2 separate regions of the Homo sapiens genome follow, and region 1 is linked to region 2. Evidence: fine-mapped expression QTL. A gene starts in region 2. The other region holds a variant in brackets. All regions are shown on one strand. Distances are between the middles of the regions. Region 1 overlaps INPP1 (inositol polyphosphate-1-phosphatase). Region 2 holds the start of INPP1 (inositol polyphosphate-1-phosphatase).

Evidence for each region.
Region 1: its variant is fine-mapped to the expression of INPP1 in cerebellar hemisphere (GTEx, PIP 0.99). The same link has a PIP of 0.9 or more in sigmoid colon and tibial nerve.

The regions. Positions count from the first base shown.
Region 1 is chr2:190,362,804-190,370,803 of GRCh38, reverse strand. It overlaps INPP1 (inositol polyphosphate-1-phosphatase), which reads right to left. Exons shown (of 7, transcript NM_001128928.2): 5 at 3,909-4,109; 6 at 1,527-1,701. Among named protein-coding and RNA genes, the nearest start is that of INPP1, 23 kb to the right of the region's middle. The variant C/T (reference allele first, on the strand shown) is at 4,027.
Region 2 is chr2:190,337,781-190,347,694 of GRCh38, reverse strand. It overlaps INPP1 (inositol polyphosphate-1-phosphatase), which reads right to left and starts at 4,106. Exons shown (of 7, transcript NM_001128928.2): 1 at 3,734-4,106. LOC124906109 (serine/arginine repetitive matrix protein 1) reads left to right here and starts at 2,646. Exons shown (of 1, transcript XM_047446773.1): 1 at 2,646-9,439. The coding sequence starts at 3,379. The coding sequence ends at 4,257. RefSeq lists silencers at 3,411-3,740, 3,811-4,120.

The DNA of each region.
Region 1 (8,000 bases), 24 kb before region 2:
TGTTTTTCATTACTCATGTCACTTTCAAACTTAATGATACGAAGAAATACACAATTCATCATAACATGGTGAATCTTAACACCTTTAAGTCTAGGAATAGATATCAGGTAGCTAGTTTATTTCAGAAAGTTACTTATATGCATGCAGCTGCCTGAGTTGTTGCAATTAGAAATGCTTTCAATTTTATGGCATTATCACATCAATCTAGGACAACACTAAAACATTTATGGGGTTTCCAGCTTCCAGAACCATTGCAAAATTTCATTACAACTTTTAGTATTTAAAGTTTAGTAGGGAAAAAGGAATAGAAAAGTGATATCTCTTTTTGATCTGCAAATATTCTACAATCCCTATAACAAGTTTTTCTTTATTTGGTAACTCCTTTTCATTCTCTTATTCACTAGTTTCACGTTGGCTTCCAACACAAAGAAAGATGGACTCAATGTTATTAGTTTTGGCAACCACAATAATTATAGCACCTTCCCTTTATCAATGCTTAACTTACTGTCTATGTTGTTACATATTTACAGATAAGGAAACAGGCTTAGAGAAAGTAAGTAGCTTGCTGAGGCCCACTCAGCTAGAAAGTGGTAGAATCTGCATTCAAACCCACAAAGTCTCACTCTGAATCTGTGCCATAAACTATTTTGTTGACCACCTCCATTTCTAGGCCATGATTATGTCTGCATATTGTTCCAATTCTTTTTAATTTCTTATTAACCTTTTAAAGATAGCAGAAACCTATTTTTAGTTTGGAAGATGGTGGGGGTAGGGGGAAAATATTAAAACTTAAGAGGTATAAACTTATGACTATTAAAGAGCAAATGATTGTTACTTGAAGCAGCTCAGGTTCAATAAAAATATGTAATCCTATATAAGTGAAAAAATATGACCTATTTCAATAAAAAGCTGAACTGCTTGTTCCACCTGGACTTTGCCATGCCCTGGAGTCAACCCCAAAGCACAGGCCATGGATCAGAGGCAGCTGAGTCCTGGCCACTTTCTACGCTCTGTTTAAGAGTGCATGGAAGAGTGGAAGGGAGGAGGCAGAAAGGGAGTGTGAGTTAGGTTCTGATCCTGGCCATGCCTACCAATCTTTTCATTGGATAATTTTCACATTTTGTTTTGAACTTCTAAAATTATACCAAAGTTCAACTGGCTATACAGCGATGGCAGCTGTCTTATTCCCAATGTATTGGAAGGCAGTGTTACCACCACTCTACTTATCTGGTTTTGAGTGGATTCTAGAAACAGGGAACAGGATTACTATATTCCAAATGTAAAACTATGATTTCTACAGGATAGTATTAATTTTAAAATTTCTACCAGCATGCACTTGGCCTGAAATAAAATTACGCAAATCCAAGATTGAAAATAGAACTTTAATTCAAATACGCAGACTTTCAATGGCAACACTCCCATGTGTTAAGTCATGGGAATGTCATATAGTGATAATCCTAACAACAAGCAAAGCTGAGGTCGTAAGTTCTAACAACCATAATATACCAAAAATATTTGCCTTTTACCTGAGGGTGTTTGGATCTCGTGACACAAAAGGTTGATTGATGACTCCCATCAGGGGAACCCCTGTCTGTATGTCATAGACACCAATTAAAATGGTGACACACTGAAGTCCACAGGGGAAGATTCCCTGGTTGGATTTAATGTCAGCAGAACCTTTTATATACTGATAAGTTGAATCTGAAAAAGGAAACAAATGTGTTTGGATTCAGGTAAAGATCATTTAGAAGACTCTGTTCCATATGACTTCTCTCTTCTACTGATTTGGTAACCAATAATTTTTTACCTTTGGATGTCACTGTATTGAATTGTTATTTGGCCTCTTGTACTTTACTTTTAAATTGCTTGTGTTTCATTTTCCTGACTGTGAGAACTCTTGAAGGGAGAGGATGTGTCTATAGTTCCTGTGGCATAGCAATTTGTATATAACAGGCATTCAAATATTTGTTACTTATCAAAAGCATTGAAAAAGTAATAACCAGAATAATTGGTGGGATTATTTTAGAAATACTACTAATCAGAGGACTAGTACAATGTGAGATGGAAAAGCCTCCTTCCAATGGGTGAAAAAAAAAGACCTACTATTTGATAGCACAATAGGGTAACTATAATCAATAAGAACTTAACTGTACATTTTAAAATAAAGAGTGTAACTAGATTGTTTATTACTCAAAGGATAAATGCTCAAAGGGATGGATACCCCATTCTCTATGATGTGCTTATCTCACATTGTGTGCCTGTGTCAAAACATCTCATCTACCCCATAAATATATACACCTATTATGTACCCACAAACATTTTAAAAAGGAAAAGAAAAAAAGAAAAGCCCCCCTCCTGTAATAGGTCACAGGTAATATTATCTTTTACTATTATTATTTGGTCCCTCAAGTTAGAAGGAAGAAAGAGACAATGATGGTGGCACCAAAAAAAGAAATTAACGGAGCTCCTATGAAACAGAGGCAGAGAAACTAGGTTTCCCCTTAAGAGATGTACATGCCAGCAGCTGACTGCTGACGTCTAGGGAGTCAACACACGGCTAAGGATGTGCCTGGCAAAAGACTCAAAGAGCTCAAAAACAGAATCAATTCAGGGTGGAACCAAGAAACAGGAGATCTCTGTCCCTCAGAAACTATAACTGATGCCAATTTACCCTTAAATGATCAAAGATTTGGGGAAAGGTTTTTAGTTTCCATATATCATCCACTGGCTGAATGTGATATAATTATCTGAAGATTAAACCCATTTCAGTATCATCCTGTGAATGCACTTGTAGGATGGGAAGGGCCCAGAGAGGAGTTTGCCTGGTCCTTGAATGGTCCCATTGTGTTGGGTGGGGAAGAAAAAAAAGGAAGGGGGAGCTTATTAAAATTATTACCTAGAACTTGTATTAATAGCATCATTGAAGATAAAGGCTGGCTGGGCATGGTAGGTCATGCCTGTAATCATCCTAGCACTTTAGGAGGCCAAGGCAGGCAGATCGCTTGAACCCAGGAGTTCGAGACCAGCCTGGGAAACATGGTAAAAACCCCTTCTCTAAAAACAATATAAAAAATTAGCCTAGTGAGGTGGCATGCAACTCTGCCACCTACTTGGGTCCCAGCTACTTGGGAAGCTGAGATAGGAGGATTGCTTGAGCTCAGGAGGACAAGGCTGCAGTGAGTGAGTTCTGACTGTGCCACTGCACTCCAGCCTGTGTGCAACACGAGACTCTGTCTCAAAAAAAAGGGTTACATTTTCAAAACAATGGATTATACATTATGGTTCTATCACAATCATGACCAAAAAAAATGTAGAGCTCATGCAGGGCTCACAAACTGCTCATGCGTCACATTCAGCTTTTTGCTTGACCTGTACTGTGTTTTTTTGATTGTTTCCTTCTTTAACTGAATTAGTAGCTAACGGTTAGAAATTGGGATATATCGCTGAAAACCTTGGATTTTGGTTTCTCTTTAAAAATCTGAAGAGCTGGCCTGTACTCCCATATGGTAACAATCTGCTAAAGCTAAGTGCTCTTTAAATGGTATGTGTGCTCAATTGGTCATAACTGCTCTCACTTCATTCTCTCATTTACTTACCAGTCTGGTCCCTGAAGTCTTTTGAAGAGAAGTTAATTCATCTTTGCATGTGTGCCTGTATGTATGTGTGTGTATATACACACACCTGTTATAGATATGTATATATATACACACGGCTATAATATATATGTATATATACAGAACACATGACACATACACCTCAACTCTCATTGTTTTAAAACTTTAAAATTTTAAAAACTTCTAGCAGAGTTAAACTACACTCAATAATTTTTATTTTTCCAACACCCATCCCCAACCCCACCACCAAAAAAAAGATTGCAAATAAGAACAAACATACTTTCCTATACTTACCTATGGGGTCCACCCAAATTCCCAAAATGTCCTGTGGAACATTGATCTCTGTGGAATCCAGAGTTGGGTCAGTAAAGGCAACATCCTGATGAACAACCCTGGCTAATGCTTCAGATGC[C/T]ACCTTGTTACCATTGAGGACTTTGCTAAGAAGCTCTGCTGTTTCCTCCTCTGTTGAACACAACCTCAAGGTAATCTTTTCCCCTAGGGTAAAGCCACACGATAAGCCATTACATTTCAAGAGTTTCAGTGGAGAAAGAACAGAGAGAGAGAGCTAAAGAGTGAGAGAGACAGAGAGAGCGAGAGAGAGAGACAGAGAGAGAGCGAGAGACACAGAGAGCGAGACAGAGCGAAAGAGCGAGAGAGACAGAGCAAGAGAGTGAGAGAGAGACACACAGAGAGAGCGAGAGACACAGCAAAAGAGCGAGAGACAGAGAGAGCAAGACAGAGAGAGTGAGACAGAGTGAGACAGAGTGAGACAGAGTGAGAGCAAGAGAGACAGACAGGGAGAGTGAAAGAGACAGAGCAAAAGAGTGAGACAGAGCAAGCAAGAGAGAGACAGAGCGAGAGAGTGAGACAGAGAGAGTGAGACAGAGCGAGAGAGACAGAGAGCGAGAGAGAGACAGGAAGAGTGAAAGAGACAGAGGGAAAGAGTGAGACAGAGAGCAAGCAAGAGAGAGACAGAGCGAGAGAGCGAGACAGAGCAAGAGACAGAGAGCAAGAGACAAAGAGCGAGAGAGACAGCGAAAGAGCGAGAGAGAGCAAGAGAGACAGAGCGAGACAGAGAGCGAGAGATTCAGGGAGAGACTGAGAGAGACAGAGTGAAAGAGACAGAGAGACAGAGAGAGCAAAAGAGTGAGACAGAGAGCGAGCGAGAGAGAGCGAGACAGAGCGAGAGAGCGAGAGAGAGCGAGACAGAGCGAGAGAGCGAGAGAGAGCAAAAGAGTGAGACAGACAGTGAGCGAGAGACAGTGAGACAGAGCAAGAGAGCGAGACAGAGCAAGAGACACAGAGAGAGACAGAGCAAGAGAGACAGAGAGCGAGAGAGACAGCGAGAGAATGAGACAAAGATTGAGACAGAGAGAGCGAGAGAGCAAGCAAGAGAGACAGAGAGAGAGTGAGCCAGTGAGAGAGTGAATCAAAAGCTGTGCACTTAGATTGAGGGCAATATATCCATCCCAGCAGTTCCTATGCCTGGCTGACTGCCAGAATCACCTGGTGGGGCTTCATCAAGTCAGATGCTCAGTGGCTACCCAGGCACTTAACCTGAATAGTAAGAGATGGGTTTCAGGAATCAAAAGACCTCCCTAGAAAAATGCCCATGTGGGCACAATTTTGTATCCCAGTTAAGGGATACATAGGCCAGTTAACAATTCCTGAATTCCTGATCATTAATCTTTTTAAAATTTGTCTTTTGACTTTTTATATACTTAAGTCACCCTGTCCGTGTCTGAATATGTTATTGAAAAGAATGGAGGTTTTTCAACACACCGAAGTGCTTCTACCTCCTTATATGATATTGCTTTTAACTTAAAATTGTTTATGCTAAGTAACATAAAATGGTATATACCAATCTTTAAATGTAGTAAAACTTTATGCCTCTAAATGGTATACATATAAATAGCTCTCCTCTGTGGAGCCCATTGAGAACCAGAACATAAGCAAAGCTGCTTCTTCAAATGAAACGATAAGTTACCGAGGCCAGGTGCTTTACCATCGCTTTAAACATGCTTCTTAGACCCTTGATTAATCTGGTTTCAGCCCTTGACAGAAGTGAGGGAAGAGGCTGGTAAAAAATAGGCAAGTTAATAGCAACAAGAAGTGACAGCAGTGGAGGAAAAAAAATCTTAAAAACTAAGAAAACATGGCACTTTGGAACGTTTTAGATACTCCTAGCTATCTAGTAGCTATCTAGGTAGCTACTTCTACCCTTCTTATTCCAAGGACCAGCAGTGTCTATATCAGCTGGGAGCTTATTAGAAAGTCAGAACCTTAGGCTGAGCGTGGTGGCTCATGCCTGTAATCCCAGTACTTTAGGAGGCTGAGGTAAGCAGATCACTTGAGGTCAGGAATTCAAGACCACCCTGGTCAACATAGTGAAACCCCTGTCTCTAATAAAAGTATAAAAAAATTAGCTAGGCGTGGTGGCAGGTAGCTTAGCATGTCTGTAATCCCAGCTACTTGGGAGGCTGAGGCAGGAGAATCGCTTGAATTTGGGAGGCGGAGGCTGCAGTGAGCCAAGATTGTGCCACTGCACTCCAGCCTGGGCAACAGAGGGAGACTCCATCTAACAAAAAAAAAAAAAAAATCAGAACCTCAGATGCCACCCCAGACCTACTGAAATTTTTTTTTTTTTTGAGACGGAGTCTTGCTCTGTCACCCAAGCTGGAGTGCAGTGGTGCGATCTCCGCTCACTGCAAGCTCCGCCTCCCGGGTTCACGCCATTCTCCTGCCTCAGCCTCCTGAGTATCTGGGACTACAGGCGCCCGCCACCACGCCCGGCTAATTTTTTTGTATTTTTTAAGTAGAGACGGGGTTTCACCGTGTTAGCCAGGATGGACTCAATTTCCTGACCTTGTGATCCACCCGCCCTGGCCTCCCAAAGTGCTGGGATTACAGGCGTGAGCCACCGCGCCCGGCCGACCTACTGAATTTTAACCAAGATCCTGAGGCGATTACATGACCAGTAAAGTGTGGGAAGCACAATATACATCTATTACAGTGATGACTGAATCAGCAAGAAACAGTCAAATTTAGTTAAATTAACTTAATTCAAAGTAAATTAGACTGTTAAAGTTGGGGAATAATAAAGCTAATAATGGCTACTTACTGCACACCTACTCTGGGCTCAGTAAAACTTATGGGATCATTCAAAGGAAGAAATTATATCACTCCTTTGCTTGAAATTTGCCAGAGACCTCCCATCCCACTGAGAGGGAAATCTAAATCCCTTCCTATGATCTGGTCTTGCCTGCAATATCATCATCACCATCTCTCCTCTTCCTCTCTCCACATTTCTCTGCCCTTTTAACAAACAGGAAAATGGATGTGGCTATGCCTTTTGCCTCTATAATTCTAGACAAATGATGTATTAAAATAGCTGTTTGTGAAGTAGTCAAGCGTAGATTTTTAAATGTAAGATTGCTTATAAGTCAGGCATAAGTGTTATTTTTAACCTTCAGAGGTTTAAAAGATTTCTTTCCCGTATTACTAACATAGAACTAACTGCATCTTAATATGTGGTGCATGAAGGAGACTAAAAAATTTTCAGAGTTAATCTAGAAACTCATTTTTTCTTTGTAATTGTGTTTCTAGATATATAAGTATTTGTCACATGATCAGTATTTAATGTTCACTATTTTATTCTTCTACTATTAAATCCAAACAAACTAAAAAAAAAAATTGTTTCTCTGAAAGAAATCAGATTACCTGAGGTCAGGAGTTTGAGACCAGCCTGGCCAACATGGTGAAATCCCATCTCTAACTAAAAATACAAAAATTAGCCAGGTGTGGTGGCACATGCTTGTAATCCCAGCCACTCAGGAGGATGAGGCAGGAGAATGGCTTGAATCCAGGAGGTGGAGGTTGCAGTGAACCGAGATTGTGCCACTGCACTCCAGCCTGGGCAACAGAGCAACTCTGTCTCAAAAACAAACAAACAAACCAAAAAACTTAGTACTAAAAGGAATCTTTTAGTTAATCCAAGTACTTCACAGAGGTTCTGAGACTTAGAGAAATGATGAGTTAATTTGCTCAAGATCACACAGTATTTCAGAACCATGGCCACCTCTGTACTTTTAGCCAAGGTCCATGGACTTCCCCCAAGAGCGCACAGATGGGTTTAAACCTAGGATCTGAAATTGTCTGCATAATTTTGTAGATGGGCATCTTTGGGGCATTAATAACTTACATTAGATTCCCAAAGGGCCATGCAATTTTCCCAAAGCTTGAGTTATAAGTTACTTAAATGCCACAGATTTATATCTAAAATGATACATGGACTTGCTAAATTATTCTAAGATACCACATCTCTCTACTTAAGTTAAATGGCATGATATTCTGAGGTAGAAATTGAATGAACCTTAACATTCAAAT
Region 2 (9,914 bases):
CTGTCACTTTAGAGGAAAAGGGCAAGTTTAAATATCTATTGGTAAAGTTGGCAAATATTTAAATTAATTTAAACATGGATAATTTACTATATTTTAAATATTTAGTTGGTTAAAAATAAAAACAAATGAGCAAATAACACACACTCTCCATCCCCCCCCAAAAAAGGAGAAAGAAAAGCAATGTAAAGAGGAAGAAGGAAAAGGAAAATAAATTCTGACATTTTCCATTATGGTAACTCATCTTGTCAAATTATTTTATAGGTATTTAATATTCTATTTCTTTAATTTTTTTATATATAACTGACCAAGTTTTAGGGCCAAATAAATTTTTTTTTCTTTTTTGAATGGGGTTGAGAGTCATTTTTTAAAAAGCTACAAATAAGGAGCCAGGTGTGGTGGCTCACGCCTGTAATCCCAGCACTTTGGGAGGCCAAGGCGGGTGGATCACGAGGTCAGGAGATCGAGACCATCCTGGCTAACACTGTGAAACCCCATCTCTACTAAAAATACAAAAAATTAGCCTGGTGTGGTAGCGGGCACCTGTAATCCCAGCTACTCGGGAGGCTGAGGCAGGAGAATCGCTTGAACCTGGGAGGCAGAGGTTGCTGTGAGCCGAGATCACACCACTGCACTCTAGCCTGGGCAACAGAGTGAGGCTCTGTCTCAAAAAAAAAAAAAAAAAAAAAAGCTACTAATAAGGTATTCAAATTTGCATGCCTGTCTTGCCTATAATTATTTAATCAGGCACATGGAAGAGGTAACAAATAAATCTATAATATGAAAGAAATTAGGCTGGGTGCAGCAGCTCACACCTGTAGTCCCAGCATTTTGGGAGGCTGAGGCAGGAGGATGTCATGAGCCCAGGAGTTTGAGACCAACCTGGGCAACATAGTGGGACCCCATCTCTACAATTTTAAAAATTAGCTGGGATGGTGGCACGTGCCTGTAGTCCCAGACACTCGGGAGGCTGGGGTGGGAGGATTCCTTGAGCCTGAGAGGTGGAGACTGCATAAGCCATGATCACACCACTGTACTCCAGCCTGGATGACAGAGTGTGACCTTTTCTCAAGAAAAAAAGAAAAAAAAGAAAGAGAAATTATTAGGTACAATATTTTGCTGTGGATTACTAGTTACAGTAATCTGCATTAGTCATCCATTAATAAAATGCTCTTATCACATTCAAGAAATTGAATTAACATTACATACCACATAAAAAAGACTAAACATGCAAAAATATGTTTGCTAAATTTGATCAGCAGAAGCTTGACCAGAAAAAAATATAAAAGTTTCAGATTTCCTAAATGAGTGGCCTCATCATATTAATAAAATCAGTTTCCATATATGAACATTTTATGTACAGGAGTCCTAATAAGTTTTATCAACTATTCATTCCAACAATAGTCATTTCCCACCTGCATTTCCCAAACTCACCTTTTTTGTTGTTGTTGACTATTTTAAAATTTTATCATTTTTGTCTATTTGAAATATCTCCTTTCTCTTAGAAATTCTGATCCAGGAAGTCTCAAGTTGCAATCTGGGAATCTTTTAAACCACTATTATACTCTACCCACTCCCCGACTTGCCTACTACCCTGAGGAATTTTACAATCAGACAAGTTTGAGAAACAGTACCCAACATCAATCACAGGAGACGGGAAGCAGAACTTTTATTTTTTTAATTTTAACTTAATTTTTATTTTTTGAGATGAAGTCTTGCTTTGTCGCCCAGGCTGGAGTGCAGTGGCGCGATCTGGGCTCACTGCAACCTCTGATTCCTAGGTTCCAGGGATCCTCCAGCCTCAGCCTCCTGAATAGCTGGGACTACAGGTGCTTGCTACCACGCCTGGCTAATTTTTGTATTTTTACTAGAGACGGGGTTTCACCATGTTGGCCAGGCTGGTCTCGAACTCCTAACCTCAAGTGATCCACCTGCCTTGGCCTCCCAAAGTGCAGGGATAACAGGCGTGAGCCACCACGCCAGCCAGAGCCTTTATTTCTAAGCTCTCAGCCAAACACATTAACATAGTTTTATTAACTTCATTACAAGATTCAAAGTATTTTAACAAGAACATTCATAAGGACTCACATCGGGAAAAAGTGCTTATATACACCATCCTCACCTTTAAAAAATGAAGATGACGTTTGTTTTCATTGATCACTTTATATAACATAATTATCTTTTAAGCAATTTCTGTATAACATGAAATAGAATGAGACATTTTCTAACTGTTATTAGAGACAGAATTAAAAAGCAAAATAAATATATAATAACCTTTATAACTTTTGTCTCACAGGCCTTCTATGTCAAACAAGAAATTATCTTTTCATTTTTTTCAGGACTATAACAAGGAAAGCTATAATTTAAATCTATAATAAGGTATATCATTTTAAAGGGCATTAGTCAAAGCTGCAATTTCCAAGCAAGCGGTGGTTTAGTCCAAAAGCTTGAAAAGTGGTAGCTTATTCTACACAAAAAGTACAGTGTAACTCTATGTATTTGACATAATTCTCTTCATGACTAAGCTGACTTCAAAAGTAGTATAAAAATCCATAAAAACTTAAAAATAAAGTAGGCTCTACATAAGAATGGAAACAAATATCTGTATTGAAAAAATGAATTCTTCCATTGCCTTTATTTTTTCCCTTATGTTCTCTATTTTAAAAGGTAAGAATGAGATCACTTAGCTAATTCACCAATCAAGAGTAGTTCAGTGGATTACTTTCATCCTTATACTATTATCAAGTTGAGCAGGGCTGATCCTTATCAACTTTTCTGGCTTCAAAGCTAGGAATCAGTGTAAAAGGGCTAAAAAATCTTTTACTCAACAGATGGGATCCACTTAAGTGGTCTGTCCATACTTTTAACCCACTGTTCTTTTGAAGTGAACACCATCATACAGTGGGCAAACTTCTGCTTATTCAACACTTTAAAAATACCTTTAAAATGAGAAATCTCCAAAAAACAAGCCGTGGTTTCTTATAAGTGTTTTTCACAGATGTACTAAAGTAAGCGTTTCCTTTCACACTCTTTGCGCCTAACCGTCTACATGATAGGGCCAAACCCAGGTTAAATATTTTTTTCCAGCTACCACTCTGGACACACCAACTAATTATGCACACCTCACAAAACCACCTTTCAAAATGCAGAGAGAATTAACAGCAAGGAAGTAAAGATTTTTCTAAATATAGTCCCATCATATTTATTTCACACTCATCAAGTAGGTCACTGGAGGTAGCTGGCAGCTAGGGACACTCAGATGCATCTCTCAAAGCCAAGGCTGAGACCAAGGGGTCACTGACAGCTGCGCCATCTACCTGTTGCAGCTGGGCCACTGCTCTGGACAACTGTCAGATCAGCTTCTTCGTCCTACAAATACTAATGACTGGATTTTTAAAATCGTTGTTTGCCACCCTTTCTTCCCGCCCCCCAACCCCATCGGGCCGCTCGGGCAGGGCCAAGGGCGCCGCGGGACTCACGAGCTCCCCTCCGCGCTGGCTGCAGCGGCGATGCCGGGCATGCCTGGCCGGGCCCGGCCGGGGGCGGCCTCGCTGCCGGGGCAGGGACCTCGCAGGCCGGCGCGCAGAGGCGAGGAACCCTCCCGGCGCCATCGACTCACCTACCCGCGGAGAGGCGACGGCGCGCGCCGCTCACCAGCCCGGGCCCCAGATCCAAGGAGGAGGGGCAGCGGCGCGGGGACCCTGTGGTGGGTGTCGTAAGGAGGAAAACGTGTTACCTAAGCCGGGGATGAGGACAGAGCAGGAGGCAGCAGCCTTTCCCTCGAGAAACGGAAGCGGCGGGGAGCAGGAGGAGGAGGAGGCGCGGCCCGGGCGCGAGGTTAGGCGAGGGGCGCTGGGCGTGCGGCCGCAGGCGCGGCCAGAGGACGAGGGTTGGGGAGGACGGCGGAGGTCACGCGAGCGAAGGCGAAGCCCCGGCGACGCACGGCCCCGCTTGGCTCGGCACCGGATCCGAGCTTGGCCTCAGCCAGGCCGCCGCCCCCGGCTTTCCCGCGGGACCGCGGCGTGGAAACGCGCGCTGCCGCCTCGGGGCTCCCGGGACGCGCGGGCCCCCCACGCCTGCCCGAGCCGGGCGTCCGCGACGTCACAAGTGGAGCGCGATGATTCAGAGGGAGGGCCAGGAAGGGAAGGGCTCTGGGGTCAGCTTGGCCACGGCTGCTGTTTCCTTGTCGCCGCCCACGAATTCACTTTTAAATCTTCCTCCTCCATTCATCTGTACTCTCATAGGGGACTGCGGGTTTGACAGATGGGTTGGCAGCTGTGAAGATGGACTTCCTGCCAGTGGTATCCGGGTCCCACTGTTCTAATGGAAATGTCAGGTGTACTGGATGTTCCTCAAGACACAGCAGTGTCTCTGGGCCTTGCCTCTTAAGGAGTGGGCCTCGGGCCACCTGGACAGGAAGCGCATCAAGGGTGGGGAACTTATCTCTCTCCAGCCTTTGGTGCTGTGATACTCAGTGTACCTTAAGGATGGTTTGGGTTGAACCTAGGTAGGAATGGGTGTTGGTGGGCGGGGTGGGGGTGGGGGGAATAGAAACCTTAAAAGGGCAACACAAAGTTTTGAATAGAAGAGGCCAAGCAGCCTCGCCCAGAAGCTGATGTTTGTGAATGTACTGGGCCTTCTAAAGCGGCGCTTCACACACCTTTTCACTTCTTGGCACAGGTAGGAAAGGATGATATTACAAGGGTCAAAATGGGGGTAAACAGAAGAGGCTGCTCCTGCAGAAGGCTTCCTGCAGAAGCCCTTGCACTTGGAGGGCTGGGAAGACCCATGCTGTATCTGCATCCCTGTCATTCGTTTCACGGCATCCAGTTGGGAAGCTCTGCTTAAAGCTTTGTCTGGCACGTTTTCTTAGCTACATTTTTCCACTCCAGCTGAGACTGCCTCACTGAGTTGTCAACACTTGGTCTTCTTCAGCAGTGAGGAACCAACAAGACAGGAGGCTGGGTCAATACTCAACTTGGCAAACTCCAGGAAATGGTGCTTAAAACGTTTGGCTTCTTGAATGGAATTCATGGTACTGCTCCCAGCCTGCACCTGGGTTCTCCAACTTGAGACAATTTCTCCCCGCATCCCCCCACCCTTCCCTGGCTTTCACTCACTAGCAAGTGGGCTGCTTCTACTTTCTTTCTCACATTCATTTCTTAGGTCCATTCTCAGAGCGGTTAGGATTACTGTTTAATTAGCCTCATAATCATATCTATGATGGCAAAATCAAGAAACAATTTAAACATGATTCTTAAAAGTAAGGAGATAAATACCAGAGACATAGAAGGTGAAAGAATTTGCCTCTAGGAAGCAGGAATTTAAATTTGGGGAAGACAGGGTGGAGCAAGGGATATAAATCTAGTCCATTTTTCTTTTCTTTTCTTTTCTTTTTTTTTTATTTTTAAGATAGAGTCTCACTCTGTCGCCCAGGCTGGAGTGCAGTGGCATGATCTTGGCTCACTGCAACCTCTGCCTCCTTCGTTCAAGCGATTCTCCCACCTCAGCCTCCCTAGTAACTGGGATTACAAGTGACTGCCACTATGCCCAGCTAATTTTGTATTTTTAGTAGAGACGAGGTTTCACCATGTTGGCCAGGCTGGTCTCGAACTCCTGACCTCAGGGGATCCGCCCAGCTCAGCCTCCCAAAGTGCTAGGATTCCAGGCGTGAGCCACTGCACCTGGCGGAATCTAGTCCATTTTCCACTTTGCTACCACACATCTGCAGGGTTTCTTGCTTGCTTAAAAGCTTTCATTGGCTCCCAATCTCTGATAATATCAAGAGCAAGTTCCTGAACAACTCATTCAAGACCCATCACCCCTCGCATCTGTCAACTCTGCCCCTTGAATATTACACCTCATTTTACTACACCACATCTAGTTCCCTGAATATGCAAACAGATTTCATACATTTGCACCTTTATACATGTTATTGCTTTTGCCTGGGAGAGTATTCTCTTGCTGCTATAATAATAGCTAATGACACTGTGCTAAGTACTTTCTGTGATTTATAACTGTTAATTCTTACATCAACCCTATGGTAAATGTTACTGTTATCTCCATTTTATAAACAAGAAAACTAAGACTTAAAGAGTTTAAGTGATTTGCAGAAATATGTAGTATTTGGTGAGGCTAAATTTGAACCCAGCAATCTGACTCCAGGACTAACATAATATTACCTATTCATCCTTCTAAAATGTTTCCCAGACACTAAATTTGAACAGGATTAAAAGATTTAAATGTTTTTAAGTCTTAAAAGGGCAAGGAGAAAATACAAGTGAATTGCTTTTAATCTCAAACTAAGCATGAAACAACGGCTGAAATTACAAAGGAAAAGTGACAGATCTGACTGTTGAACTTTTAACTTCTTTTATCCAAAAAAAAACCCCATAGAATAAAATTTAAAAACAAGTAAAAATTACAAAAAATTTGCAATATACATGACAGATAAGCATAACATTAAAGAGAACTTAGAAAGAAAAAATAGCCTACTAAAAATGAGCAAAATGCAAATTCGTCATCATGAGAGAAAAATGTAAATGGCCAAACATTTTTAAGAGAAGTAAAAACTTAAAACGATAATGCACCATCAAATTGAGAATAAAATAATACTCAGAGCTAGTAATTTGGGCCAGTGACCCTTGGAGTAGGATGTATAGCAACTAAAGAAACTCATACATTACTGAGAAGGGTGTAAATTGGCTCAACGATTCTGGAGAGCAATTTGACAGAATGTAGTGAAAGCGTCAAAAATGTTCACACACTTTGACTTAAAAATTACATTCCTGGAAATTTATAATACAAACATTTTCTATAAAAGGTCAGATGGCAAATACTTTGGGCTTTGAAGGCCACATATGTCTCTGTGGCTTTTCTTTTGTGTGTGTGTTTAAAAAAAAAAAAAACTGCCCCCCCTCCCCCCACCCTTGTTAGGCCATTCTTGCATTACTATAAAGAAATACCTGAGGCTGGTTAATTTATATGAAAAGAGGTTTAACTGGCTCATGGTTCTGCAGGCTGTACAGGAAGCATAATGCCATCTGCTTCTGGGGGGGCCTCAGGAAGCTTCCAATCATGCTGGAAGGTGATGGGGAGCAGATGTCTCACATGGTGAGAACGGGAGCAAGAAGGAGTTGGGGGGGAGGAGCCACATAAACAATGAGATCCCTGTGAGCTCAGAGTGAGAGCACACTTATCACCAAGGAGATGGCCCAAGCTATTCATGAGGGATCCGCCCCTATGATCCAAACACCTCCCACCAGGCTCCACCTCCAACACTGGAGATTATATCTCAACATGAAATTTGAATGGGACATCCAAACTGTATCACCCCCAAAATGTAAAGTCTCATCACAGTACATTTGGTAATGGCCAAAAGAGAAACCAAACTAAATGTCCGAGAATAAAAATTAGTTACAACTAGATACACGGAGGCAAGTTTTTAAAAAGTGTTAAAATTTTAAAATGTTGCAGAATGGTATCTATTGGATAAAATAGTATTTATGATTTATTAAGTGGAAAATACAGTTTACAAAATAATATGGTGTGATCCCGAAAACAACATAATCATGTGTGTATAAATGCATAGAAAAAAATCTGGAAAGATATAAACAGATATTTATAGTGGTCTAGGGCAGGGGATGGAATTGTAGATATTTGCTTTTTGTTTTATGTATATGTTTCCCATAATGAAATGTATTGTTTATATAATTAAAAAATATACGAAACTTTGCTTGGGGGACAACAAAGCACCTCATTTGTTAATTTGGGAAAATCTTTTATTACAATCTCTGTAAGGAGTTGGTTGCTCTCTCTTCTGTACTCCCTGATTACATAATGCTCTTCTGAGCACTTTTATTTAATAGCAGAATGGTTGATATCATTATTTAGTTAAGGTTTCCTCTATTATCGAACATCTGAGTTCCCAGTACACTAGTCTCCCCTTATCTGTGGTTTTGCTTCCAAGGTTTCAGTTATGATCAACCAAGATCTGAAAATATTAAATGAAAAATTCCAGAAATAAAACAATTCATAAGTTTTACATTGTGCACCATCCTGCTGTATCCTGTCCAGGCCATGGGTCATCCCTCTTGTTCAGTGTGTCCACACTGTAGATGCTCCCCTGTCTGTTAGTCACTTTGTAGTTGGCTTGGTTGTCAGACCTACTGTCAAGGTATTGCAGTACTTATGTCCAAGTAACACTTATTTAACTTAATAATGGCCCCTAAACACAAGAGTAGTAATGTTGGCAATTTGGGTATGCCAAAGAAAAGTCATAAAGTGCTTCTTTTAAGTGAAAACCCAAAAGTTTTTGAATTAGTAAGGAAAGAAAAAAATCCATATGCTGAGGTCGCTAAGATCTATGATAAGAATGAATCTTCTACCTGTGAAATTGTGAAGGAAAAAGAAATTCACGTTAGTTTTGCTGTTGTACCTCAAACTGCAAAAGTTATGGCCACAGTGTATAACTTTTATTAAAATATATTTGTATAACTGTTCTTATTTTACTTTTCTGTTTTATTTTTAGAGACAGGGCTTCATTCTGTCACCCAGGCTGGAGTGCAAAGGTGCAATCATAGCTCACTGCAGCCTCAAACTCTTTGGCTCAAGTGATCTTCCTGCCTCAGCCTCCCAAGTAGCTGGGACTGCAGGTGTGCATCACTACGCCCAGCTAATTTTTTAATTTTTTGTGCAGATGGAGTCTGACTCTGTTGCCCAGGAACTCCTGGCCTCAAGTAATCCTCCCGCCTCGGTTTTCCAAAGAGCTGGGATTACAGGCATGAGCCACTGTGCCTGGCTATTCTATTTTATTAGCAGTAATTGTTGTTAATCTCTTATTGTGCCTTATTTATATTAATAACTTAATCATAGATAGATATGTATAGGAAAAAACATTGTATATAAAGGGTTCAGTACTATCTGCAGTTTCAGATATCCATGAGGGGTCTTGAAACGTATCCCCCACAGGTAAGGGGGGACTTGTATTTCTCTGTTATAAATATGCTGGTTATTCTCCACTTGTTGTGTTTTAGTGCCATCTTCTGCTCTTCTCTGCTAGACTCTGTGCCTCAGAAGGTGGAATTTTTCATAAACTATTCCAGCTGGGGTCTCATGCCAGTTGGTTTTGACCAATGGGTAACACCATCAGTAGATTGGAGGATGGAAAAGGAAAAAAGGTTAGGATATGTTTCACCACCTCTTTTCCTGCTTCTGGCTGGGTTCTGATGGTGGCTTTGTCCCTTGAAGGCTCCTCCTGCAAGGCAGCCCTGCTCCACTGTGCCAGCCTTCACTGGGCTCTACTAACGTGATTCCCTCCCCTTATTTCTTCAGGCCTAGCTGTGCTAACTCCTAGGTACCTCCATGTTTCTTGTTTCCTTTCATCCAACCCTAACCCTAACTTCTATAAATAGTTCCCGCAATAAAGTCTCTTCAGCTGAAACATCTGAGTGGAAATTGATTCCTGTTATGACAGACTAAATATACTAAAGGAAACAGTTGATCATCATAGAACACAAATCTTTTATCCTTACTGCAACAGGGCCTGGATATTTGCAGATTTTATATCCGAGCTTTGAACTATTTGCAAGGTAATTATAGAGTGATTTACACATTTCCTGAAACAGGGATTTAAGTTTATGCTGTGAGGCTAGTGTTTGGGAATATAACACTCTGACTATTCTCCACTTCTCCGGTAGTTTTTGAGAAGTAATGCTCCATTGCATTTTATTGAAGAAATTATATATACAGTACAGTGGTGTCCACATTTTGATGTTTTCAGTGGAATCTTTAAGAAAAAGTTCTTACATGTAATCTAACATACAAATTAGATAAATGTCAAATTGCTCTGGTTGAGGCAGCATTGGGGAAACCTTCTTCCTATCTTTGAAGCCGACTTTGGGATGCCTCTGCAGAAC